Linked DNA regions of Homo sapiens. The protein of the gene in region 3 purifies or fractionates together with the protein of the main gene of each other region. This does not show direct contact. Each region holds a gene or a part of one and is shown on either strand. Other genes may lie near its edges.

The links.
Region 1: the proteins of ZNF836 (region 3) and TCP11L1 purify together in Homo sapiens (affinity purification with mass spectrometry, with the first as the bait; one large-scale study listed by BioGRID). This does not show direct contact.
Region 2: the proteins of ZNF836 (region 3) and TBCD purify together in Homo sapiens (affinity purification with mass spectrometry, with the first as the bait; one large-scale study listed by BioGRID). This does not show direct contact.

The regions. Positions count from the first base shown.
Region 1 is NC_000011.10:33,070,539-33,074,163, forward strand, and holds the end of TCP11L1 (T-complex protein 11-like protein 1), read left to right. Parts: intron 1-1,935; coding exon 1,936-2,138; 3' UTR 2,139-3,012; downstream 3,013-3,625.
Region 2 is NC_000017.11:82,940,451-82,944,096, reverse strand, and holds part of TBCD (tubulin-specific chaperone D), read right to left. Parts: intron 2,699-3,646; coding exon 2,614-2,698; intron 2,608-2,613; exon of another isoform or gene 2,592-2,607; coding exon of another isoform or gene 2,043-2,591; exon of another isoform or gene 2,020-2,042; intron 1,949-2,019; exon of another isoform or gene 1,649-1,948; coding exon 1,634-1,648; 3' UTR 1-1,633. Other genes in the region: uncharacterized protein LOC124904095, read right to left, coding at 2,043-2,591.
Region 3 is NC_000019.10:52,168,763-52,173,090, forward strand, and holds the start of ZNF836 (zinc finger protein 836), read right to left. Parts: upstream 2,860-4,328; 5' UTR 2,574-2,859; intron 1,024-2,573; exon of another isoform or gene 1,020-1,023; 5' UTR 886-1,019; intron 1-885. UniProt on the Homo sapiens protein: May be involved in transcriptional regulation.

The DNA.
Region 1 (3,625 bases), on a different chromosome or scaffold from region 3:
GCCAGGCATGGTGGTGCATGCCTGTGATGCTAGCTACTTGAGAGGCTGAGGCAGGATAATCGCTTGAACCTGAAAGGTGGAGATTGTGGTGAGCCGAGATTGTGCCATTGCACTCCAGCCTGGGCAATAAGAGCTAAAGTCTGTCTCAAAAAAAAAAAAAAAAAAAAGAATAAGGGTGATAGGGCCAGGTGTGATGACTCATGCCTGTAATCCCAGCATTTGGGAGGCCAAGGTGGGCAGATTACCTGAGGTCAGGAGTTTGAGACCAGCCTGGCCAACATGGTGAAACCCCGTCTCTACAAAAAATACAAAAATTTCCTGGGCATGGTGGCGTGTGCCTGTAATCCCAGGTACTCGGAAGGCTGAGGCAGGAGAGTCACTTGAACCCAGGAGGCGGGGGTTGCAGTGAGCCGAGATCGCGCCACTGCACTCCAGCCTGGGAGACGAGGGAAACTCCATCTCAAAAAAGAAAAAAAAAAGAAGAAGGGTGATAGGGCTGGGTGCAGTGGCTCACTCCTGTAGTTCCAGCACTTTGGGAGGCGGGGGCAGACGGATCACTTGAGGTCAGGAATTCAAGACCAGCCCGGGCAACATGGTGAAACCCCGCCTCTACTAATAATACAAAAATTAGCTGGGCATGGTGGCATGCGCCTGTAATCCCAGCTACTCGGGAGGCAGAGTGGGGAGAATCGCTTGAACTCGGGAGGCGGAGGTGTAGTGAGCTGAGATTGTGCCACTGCACTGCAGCCTGGGCGACAGAGTGAAACTGTGTCTCGAGAAAAAAAAAGAGTAAGGGTGTTAGGCCCTGTCCTGTCAGCAGTTTCTGTCTGTGTTGTGAGGCTCAGGAGGGTATAAGTTATTTGCACCTGAGAGGATTCCCCAGGCAGGAGGCAAGGCATGTAGTTTGAAAAAGTCTATTCCATATAAATGTCTCTGTTGTTTTTGTGATAAAATCTGCAAGAAGTGTGGCTTGATCAAATCTTTTTTCATGAGGATACACAAGAGTACAAAAGCATTGTGAAGGGGAATGGACTAGAAAAGCATCAACCTAAATTATTCCTCCAAGTAGGACAAGTTTACAAATGCCCATGACTTCCATGCAGGCATCAGAGAAGGAAGCACGAGCTGCTTTCATGGAGGCTTAGTAGGAAAAAAGTCTTTTTTGAACCTGTAATTCCTGCTTTAATCTTCCACCTTTTTATGTGATCGTCAGCGATGGCTAACAATGGTCTCAGGATGTGTTGCTCCTCGGAGAGCAGAGCATGTCTCCAGTCTTCCTTTACTCACTCATGCATTCATTCATTTTTTTTGTTTTGTTTTGTTTGGGGACAGAGTCTGGCTCTGTCGCCCAGGCTGGAGTGCAATGGCATGATCTCAGCTCACTGTAACCTCCACCTCCTGGGTTCAAGTGATTCTTGTGCCTCAGGCTCCCGAGTAGCTGGGACAACAGGTGTGCGCCACCACACCTGGCTACTTTTTATATTTTTAGTAGAGACGGGGCTTCACCACAATGGCCAGGCTGGTCGAACTCTTGACCTCAGGTGACCCGCCCACCTTAGCCTCCCAAAGTGCTGGGATTACAGGCGTGAGCCACCGCGCCTGGCCACTCATGCATTCATTCTTGCATTCCAAGTGTGTTTGAGCTTCTCCTGGGAGCTGGGTCTCATGCCAGTCACTGTGCTGAGTGCTGAGGAGACATGATGAACAAGATGAGCATGGCTCCTACCTTCATGAAACTAACCATCTAGAGGGGAGAGAAAACATTATAAATGGGATGAATATGCAGAAGTGCAAGGTGCTGTGGGTATCTGGTCTGGGAGTATTGATCGGGGACAACTTCCCCTAAGAGGTGATGGTTAAGCTAAGAACTGAAGCACAGTAAGGTTTGTAAGGTGAAGGACAAGAAACAACTGACCACTTTCTTTTTTGTCACAGAATCTCGAATCCTGACCTTCTTAGAAACCTACCTTGCCTCGGGTCATCAGAAGCCATTGCCCACAGTCCCTGGGGGACTCAGTCCAGTTCAGAGAGAGCTGGAGGAAGTTGCTATTAAATTTGCTCGCCTGGTCAACTATAACAAGATGGTCTTCTGTCCCTACTACGATGCAATCCTGAGTAAGATCCTCGTCCGATCCTAACGTGTATGCACCCTACAGCAGCAGTATTACTCACTAGCCACAGAATACCTGTTCTGTACTCTAATGTTGCATTGGAAAATGGCTATATAGTACATGTCTATTTAACAGCACCGATTCCAAAGGGAAGAATATTGTGTATCACTGTTGAAAAGACTTGTTGAGAAATCCACTGAATTCTATTTTGAGAGATTGTATTTATGAGTGCAAGTTTACAAATCAAAGAAGCATTTTGTTCTCGAGTTTTACAGGTAACACTCAGCTGTTGTCTCCACTCCTCCCCCATCATGTCCTTCCAAGGAGGCTGGGACCTCTCTCTTCTGCAATCTGGGTAGTTCTTTCAGATGCCTCATGCTGAGCTGACGGCCATCCAAGCGCAAAAGAGACCAAGCCATGGCCTCACCTCCTGCCCTCCCTCAGACAGCCTTGTCCCTCACCCCTCCCTTCTGGTATTTTTGTTAGAAGGGCTATATAACGTCTTATTGCCATTTTCTCCCCCTATTTATTGCTTCCTCCCTGCCTGGCCTAGCCAGGGCTCCCAAGCCCTTTTTTCTAGAGGAGAGTTATTTGTCTCTCTCTCTTTTTTTTTTTACTTTCTTTTTTGTATTTAAACATTCTTTTAACCTTCCCCCAAAGATACAGTTATTGGACTTTAAAAAGCTTGTTCTTTTATACAAAATTACTCCTGCATCTGGTTGAGAGCAGTTATGACTTATGAGATCTAGTGAAAGGAAAGTCTTTGACTTTCAAGCCTTGAAAGTCAAGGAGGAAATGTATTGAAAAATAGTTTACTGTAATGTGAACGAAGAGAAATGTCTGGAATTCTTACTGAAAAATTGACCCTGAGACAATACACAGATGTGATGATTGAATTAAATTCTGGAATTAGATTTAACTGTTTTCAGATAAAATAGCTTGAGTTCACGAATCTCCTAGATGAGGAAGTCATAGGAAATCCCTGGTGTTTGAGCATTATTTTTCAAGGAACTTCAGTGACCAGAATTCCTGACATGTCCTCTGAGCGTGAGTGATTTGGGTCTCATAGACGATCTGTTCTTTTTTTTTTTTTTTTTTTTTTTTTAAAGTGTACACATGTATGTCTGCATTTTAGACAGGGATGTTATATTAGAAGCAGAGCCATGAAGTTGGAATGACCAACTGCCACAACAGCAAGGGGTAAGACTATATTACTGTATGAGTAATGCAGTAATATCGGCACCTGAAGCCTTCTGTACAGGAAGCTAAGAGAAACTTACAAGTTAGCCGGGCGTGGTGGCTCACGCCTATAATCCCAGCACTTTGGGAGGCCGAGGCAGGCAGATCACCTGAGGTCAGGAGTTTGAGACCAGCCTGGGCAACATGGTGAAACCCCATCTCTACTAAAAATACAAAAATTAGCTGGGTGTGGTGGCACGCGCCTGTAATCCCAGCTACTTGGGAGGCTGAGGCAGGAGAATCGCTTGAACCCGGGAGGCAGAGGCTGCAGTGAG
Region 2 (3,646 bases), on a different chromosome or scaffold from region 3:
AGTTCATCATGTTTTTCTCAGAAGCCACTTGTTCCTTCCATCCTCAGTGCATCCCAGGCCAGCAGGAGCTTTGTGAGCTGCAGGCATGGCGATGGTGCGCCTGTTCCACACCCAGCAGGCGCAACCAGAGTCTCGTGTGTGCCGACCACAGGAGCCAAGCCTTTTCCACTGTGTGGACTCATGTGGCCAAGGCTAGGCCTGGTCACCCAGGACCCTCACCACGTGACCCCAGCCAATCGGGACAGTTCAAGGAGGAGGAGACCCCTATTACACAGGTTGGAATAAAATATTTAAATCTCGTAAAAATGTAACCCAAGGCTCTTTTAGGGTATAAAGACCATTGGCCACCAGGTCAAACACAACAACAGTAGTGTGTTAACCCCACACTCCTGTGTGGCCAGGTCGTCACACACATCCCGTGAAGAGCTGTCTGCTAAACACACAGCACGGACTGTCACAGTCCTGGTCTTGTGGTCCTGGTGACCTCACAAGCCTCACAGATGCGGTGGCACCTCCCAGTTCTCGGCCTGCCCATGTTCCTGTGTCCAGGCCCCATCCCCACCTGAGAGCAGGCCAGGGAGCCACCCTAATCTACACCACGCACATGGCACCCCTGGGCTCCTCACATAGGGAAAGGGTTGCTCACCCAAGCCCTTGGGCCTCTGAGTGGCCACACCTGGGGCTGCTTTGGTGCTGCTGGCCGTGGTTCTGCACCTCAAGCCCTATGAGCACAGCACAGGTCCCAGAGATGGGTGTGGGTTGCTACCACAGTGAAATTTTTATACACGTTCCCCTCACCAGCTTTGGGATGGATCAGCACGAGCTCAGACACAGAGACAAAGGTAGCCTCCTGCCCTTTGCCTAAAAACCCAAGTGTGGACTCTGCCCAGGCTCTCCTAAGACAGTGTAATTATTTCAAGAATGGTATTTATTTCCGACATTACTGTAGAGGCACACATTGGACTCTGACGATTCCCCTTGCAGCAGACATTTGTGAAGCTGCTGGTCGGCACACCCATCAATCAGTGACTCCTGCACTGCAGAGGGGCCACATGCACGATGCTCACGTGTGCACAGGGGGGAGGACAGCACCCCCACCAGGCAGACGGGCCCAGAAACAGCATCTGCCCAGCACTCCAGACCATGCCTGCCACCAGGGCTTCTCAGTTCTCTAGCATTTGAACCTCTGATTTAACATTCATCTCTCTCCAAGACTGGGTGGGGCACTGCCTGTGGCCAGACGTCTCCCACAGCAGGGACAGCACCAGGCAAGAAGGGGGCCTGGTCTCCAGGCAGGAGGAGTGCAGCCCACCTCCCCTCTGGCTGACCCCTGGGCAGTGAGCCTTTCCATCACCCCTACACACATCAGGCTCAGAGACAAAAGGCAGGAACTTCTTGGTACATGATTTTATAGGAAGCACATTTGTGTTCAAGTGAAGGCAGAGGCGTCCACCCCAAGTCACCAGAGCGCAGGTGCAGAGAGGAAAAGCTGTCAGCTAGTGCCAGCCTCCAAGGGCCAGCGCTACCCTTCAACAGCTGGAGGCACCACTGTGCGAGGCTTTCCACACCGGCCTCCCTCAGGAACAAGACATCCTCACCAGGCAGGGGTGAGGTATGGGCTCCAGGACTGGCTTCAGCAGGCACCAGGCTGAAGAAGAGACAAGACAAGCTCAGGCTGGTCAGCTCCAACACACACCATTCCCAGCCAGGGGACCCTCACCCCTCTGGGCCCTGTGTGGGGACTGACACGGTTCCTGCAGGAAACCATTTGTGCCGTTTCCCACACACCCGGCAGCCTGAGCTATGTGGCTGACAGGTGCTCATGACTAACGTGTCCTCGGAAGGGCACCCCATCTGGGGAGCGGGAAGGGAGGTTCACTGCACTGCTCTTAACCTGCATTCACACGTTTGAAATTTTTCCTAATAAAAATGTAAAAAGCACATTTAATTCCAAAGTCTGCTGTTGAGTTCAGCCTTTACACACACAGAAATGGGGGAGGCTGTGTCCTGATGCTCAGCCCATCCCCACTGCCCCCATGTATCTAGACATGGTTCTCCTCCTCCCTCTCAGATATAACCTCCTGCCGGAAGGAGGCTGAGAGGAAGGAGCCAACCCTGGTAACTAGAGAGACAGCACAGCAACCCTGGGCCCCAGCCCCCGAGAGAACTGAGGTACTTGTTTTTGTTACTTTAGAAGAGTGACGGGCTGGTGAGGTGCACAGGGGCAGCTTCTGGGGGCCTCTCACCCAGCCCCGGCCCCACTCATGGGAAGCAGATGAGGAGGGGTAGGGTGGCACTCTTGGCACTTGGAGCACAAACAGACCCCAGGGCCAGGCATGAGGAGCCTGGATCAAGCTGGTGCCAGCTCCACCCACTCCCCGGCCCCCCAAACGCCCCAGAGCAAGTGGCCTGGATGCCACAGGGGCCCACAGGTGTGGGCAGTGGCCAGAGAAGGCAGCTCTGCTGGTCCCGTAATCCCAGGGGTCCTGACATGAGACGAGGGAACGGGCCGTGTGGACGTGCTGGCAGAAGCTAAGCACAGCCGCTGGCCCCAGAACATTCCAGAGCTCAGGGAAGCACAGGCACCTCATGCTGTGAAGGTGACAGGGTTACCTGGGGCACCAGCTGGGGCCTGGGTACGCCCAGAAGGTCACACAGACGGTTGCGCTGCTCTCTCACCACTGCAAGCTCCGCGTCCCTGTGAGGAGAGGGAGAGCCGTGAGTCTCTCGAGTGCCCACCGGAGAACCTCAGGTGTGCGGAGGTCCCGCGTCAAGCTTCCATGGCCGCAGTCAGGGAAAGGAGACCTCACCCCCGACATCCATAGCCAGGCTGAGGGCAGAAAAGACGTCACAGGAGCACGTTCTCCAGCAGAGCCTCGAGCCTGAGCCCTTTCCGGAATCGCAGGAGGACGGTTCCTTCCCAACAAGGGGTGCCCCTCGGGAAGGACCACGCCCAGCGCAGGGACTGCGGGAGGACAGACCAAGCGAGGCCAAGGAGGGGCTGACAAGGGTTTTCCAGGTTTTAATTTAGCTGTTGATGCGAAATAAAAATTCTAGCAATGCTGTGGAGATATCTGGGGCATGTTTTTCGTTTCTAATTTAAAATATTCTCTTTAAATTCTAAGGATTTTTTTTTTTAACAGAAAGGGGATTAAACGATAGGAGAAGCCCCCAGGCCCACCCTGCTAGTTCCTCCCTCCCTGATGTGAGGAAAGGAGGCCACCCCGACCCAGCCTCGCTGGAGGAGGCCTCGCCCCGCTCGGGACACCTGGCTTCTTCAGTCCTAAAGCCAATTATTTTAGAATCTGGTCCAGAATGCACCTTGGTGTTTTTTTTTAAAAAAATCATTGTAAAAACGGGTCTCCAGAGCAGTAGTTAAGATGGCCATTCTCTCAACGCATGTTGAGAAGACAGCCCAGCTGCTCCCGGTTCCTCTCCTGGGACCACGTGTTTGTTTAGGAGCAGACACACACTCCTCCCCAAACCAGAAAACCTCGCGGAAGCCCTGGAGAGGCCACCTCTGTCCTCCGAGGCCACAGCGGCTGCCTGGTGCGTGAGCTCTATGGGAACCCAGCCCTGTTGGAAGGTCACTGTTCCGAGGAGACACCTAGGGAACGTCACCTACGTCCTTGCTGGATTCAACAAG
Region 3 (4,328 bases):
CCATGCAATCTCCGCCTCCCAGGTTCAAGCGATTCTCCTGCTATTTGCAACAACATGGATGAACCTGGAAGACATTACGCTAGGTGAAATAAGACAGACACTAAAAGACAATTACTGTATGACCTCACAAGCAGAATTTTAAAGTATCCAATTCATAGGAACAGGGTAGAACAGTTGTTGCCAGGGGCTGGTGGTGGGGAGAATGGAAAAATGTTGGCCAAAGCGTATAAACTTTCAGTTATAAAATGAAGAAGTTCAGGGGAATCTAACGTACACCGTGGTGTCTATACTGTATTGGACACTTTAACAGTTTGGAAAGTTTTTGAAAAATTTAATGAGTTATAGGGTGAAAGTTTAAAAAAATGACAATACTTAACATTTAGAAATGAATGACGTCAGCTGATTATAGGATGCCACCAAATCTTATTTCAGAAGTCAGTAATTATTTATAGAAAGGCAGATATTGAATAAACTAACACTTATCTCAAGCTTCCAAAATAACGATGAATTAAGTGGAACTACAAAGAAAAAAGTAGGCCAGGCGCAGTAGCTCACACCTGTAATCCCAGTACTTTAGGAGGCCGAGGCCGGCAGATCACCTGAGGTTGGGAGTTCAAGACCAGCCTGACCAACATGGAGAAACTCTGTCTCTACTAAAAATACAAAATCAGCCAGGCGTGGTGGCACATGCCTGTAATCCCAGGTACTCGTGAGGCTGAGGCAAGAGAATCACTTGAACCTGGGAGGCGGAGATTGCAGTGAGCCGAGATGGCACCATTGCACTCCAGCCTGGGCAACATGAGCGAAACTCCGTCCCAAAAAAAGAAAAAAGCAAATCCATTACCAAAAAAAAATAAGACTCTGAATACTCATACAAAGATATACCTCGTAGGCCTGGCGTGGTGGCTCCCGTCTGTAATCCCAGCACTCTGAGGCAGAAAGACTGCTTGAGCCCAGGAGGTTGAGGCTGCAGTGAGCGGAGATCATGGCACTGTACTCTAGTCTGACAGAGCAAGACCCTGTCTCAAAAAAGAAAAAAAAAAAAAAAAGACATACCTTGTAGTGACAGTGACAGTCATTTATCGCCCCATTTCTCAGTTACTCTATCCTCTACCCCATCCCAGGGAAGAAAAGAGTTACCACGAATGACTTAATTTAAATGCTCTCTGGCTAAACAGAAATTCCAAATATCTTTTGATACAAATAAATACAAAATGCACAAGCCTTACAGAAAAGAGTGGTAATTTTCATCCTCACGAGTACAATTTAAAGAAATGAATTTTAAATTAGAGTATAAAGTCACAAATTAGAATATTACAACCACCATCCATATCCAATCAACTCATCGCTCATCTGGATGGGGTCCTCTCCCACTTTCTTCACTATTGTGTGTGTCCCTCTCTCATTCTGCACCTTTCCTCCCCTTTTCTGTTTTTCTCCTCTTTATGTCTGTTCTGCCCGATGCTCTGCAACTTACTTCACCTCTCGTAGCTCTTTCTCCCCAATCTTTCTGATTGTCCCCAATCTCCACGTATTTCCGCCTCTTTTTCCCCATCTGAGCTCCCTCTCTGCTCTCCTTGTTAAAATTCCCTCTTACCTGTTACACCTCCTTTGTTCCCACTCTCTAGCACCCCCAACTCCCTAGGCTTCCTCCCTGCTGTGGTTCTCCCTCTACTCTGCTTGTCACCCACTGCCCTCTCTCCCTCTCTTTCAGTCCCAGCACCACGTAGCTCTGTCGGCTGCGGCTCCAACTCTTTCACCTTCTCCCCACTGTCTGTCTGCAGTGCCTCCTCCTTTGCCGCCCCACTCTATTTTGCTGCCTTTCATCTCTCTGAAGGTCCCCCTTTTTTTCTAAATTTCTCTGTGTGCTTTCCTCCCCCTGCTTCTTTCTCCATTCGTTCTCTTTCACTCTTGCTGTCTCTTTGCAAATCCCTAAATTATCATCCATTTTGCCGTGTATTTATGGGTCTCCCTCATTCTCTTCTATTCGGTCTTTCCTTTTGCTCCGTCGCTCCCCTTCTTTTCCTCTCCTGATCCCTCTCACCCACACATTCAGTAAGAAAGGGGAGGAATAGGATGCCCACCTCCCGGAAAAGCATATTTTCCAGTGGAGTAAAATTTGGGAAGGAAGAACACTGGGTGTCACAAGACTCAGGTGACCTCCCCCAAGGGGGGGATCGAGAAAAGCAGTGGCTGTGAAGGGGAAGCCTGGGGAGCGAAAGGACCCGGCGTGAGGAGGACACAAGGTGGCAGGGGGTACGGTGTCTCAGGACAGGGAGGGTCTGCAGAATCCCAGGACCTGGGAGGAGAAGCGACTCCTTCAGGAGCCGGACGGCGGGCGCTCCCCTCCAGGGGCTGACGACGGAGAAGCTCCGGGGTCGCAACGGGCGGGAATCCACCTCCCGAGTGAGGACTCGACTTGGCGCAGGGCCGAAGCAGAGGTCAGTAAGGGTTTTAAGCAGGAACACGACCTGAGTGGGGTTGTCTACATGGTCCTAAGGCAGAAAGGCAGGGAGCAAGGAACAGCCTCAGAGAGATTTTTAAACCGAAAGGGAAGCAATTATCAGACTTACTTGGGGCGAAGGGGCTGTTGCTGGTATTTTAAGGTCCGTAGCGATCCCCAGGAAACGGGTATGGACAAGGGAAGACTGCCAAGTGCACGTTCGATTCAGGCAGACGGGGCGAAGCAAATGTTTAGTCCAGGTAGACGGAAACTGACGCGCAGCGCTGTGATCTTTTCCCCGCGCGATCTGCTTCCGGGTGTGCAGGAAGCTACACGCCCTGAGAAAAAAGACTGAGAGACCTGGGGCGGGAGAGGGGCCTGGGCGGGGTGCGACCCGCAAGGGAAAGGGCAGAAAGACTGGCCAGATTTGGGAACCCTGAAAGGGTGGGGCAAGGCTGATGCGGTAGTGGGCGGGGCCAGGTGGGCTAAGCGGGACGGGCGGTGTGGGCGGGACCTGTTTGGTGGGCGGGGCCTGTTATTCGCTCTGCCTTCCACCCAGCAAGTCTTTGTTCTCCCGATTTAGGAGTATTTGTGACTATTTCTTGTCCTGTGAAGCAGCGTTGCTTCCTGCCTATTTTAAGTTAATGTTTTAGACTTTAAGGTCAAAGCTTAAAGTTGTGGTCCACTTCTGTTGGAAACTAAGATGTTTTCTTCTTGTCAAGTTGAACTGATTTAAGTCAAAATCGATTTTTGCGAGCCTGGTGGACTCCATCGGGTCTTGCCAGTGAGGCTGAAGCCAGTTAAGGCTGAAGTTACTCAGTAGTCAGGGAACTAGGATCTCCGTGAAGATCTGATGTGCAGCCGTGGCTGGATCCAGGAACCCTGAAGACATTATGCTAAGCGAAATGTGCTAGACACAGAAAGACAAATCCTGCATGTGCTTACTTACATGTGCAATCTACAAACATCAAAATTACAGTAACAGAGTAGAAGGGTGGTTTCCAGGGCTGACGGTCTATCCTGTGCCTGTCCCACCATTGTATTTTGGAAGCAAATAGCTTCTTTGGCTTCACAGTTTCACAGCTGGACAGAAATTTTGCCTCAGGATGAACCACACTTTGAGTCTCACCCATATGTGATTCAGATAATATTTGGGTAATATTTGGGCCTTAGAGTTTGATACTGAAATGGATTAAGACTTTTGAAATGGGCCAGGAGCAGTGGCTCTGGCCTGTAATCCCAGCTCTTTGGGAGGCCAAGGTGGAAGGATTGCTTGAGCTCAAGAATTCAAGACCAACCTGGGGCAACATAGTAAGACCCTTGTCTCTACAAAAAATACAAAAATTAGCCAGGCATGGTGGCTCACGCCTATAGTCACAGCTATTTGGGAGGCTGAGGTGGGAGGATCTCTTGAGCCCAGGGGATCAAGGCTGCAATGAGTTGTCTTTGCACCACTGAACTGCTGCCAGGGCAACAGAGTGAGACTCTGTCTCAAAAAATAATAATAATAAGACTTTTGAGATGTTAGGATGGGGGTGAAGGGATCTTGCATGTGAGAAGGACATGAATTTTGGGAGTCCAGAGTACAGAATGTTATGAGCTGAATCACGTCCCTAAAAAATCATTGTTGGCCAAGCGCGGTGGCTCATGCCTATAATCCCAGCACTTTGGGAGGCCGCGGCGGGCGGATCACAAGGTCATGAGATCGAGACCATCCTGGTTAACACGGTGAAACCCTGTCTCTACTAAAAATGCAAAAAATTAGCCGGGCGTGGTGGCGGGTGCGTGTGGTCCCAGCTGCTCCGGAGGCAGAGGCAGGAGAATGGCGTGAACCCAGGAGGCGGAGCTTGCAGTGAGCCGAGATCCAGCCACTGCACTCCAGCCT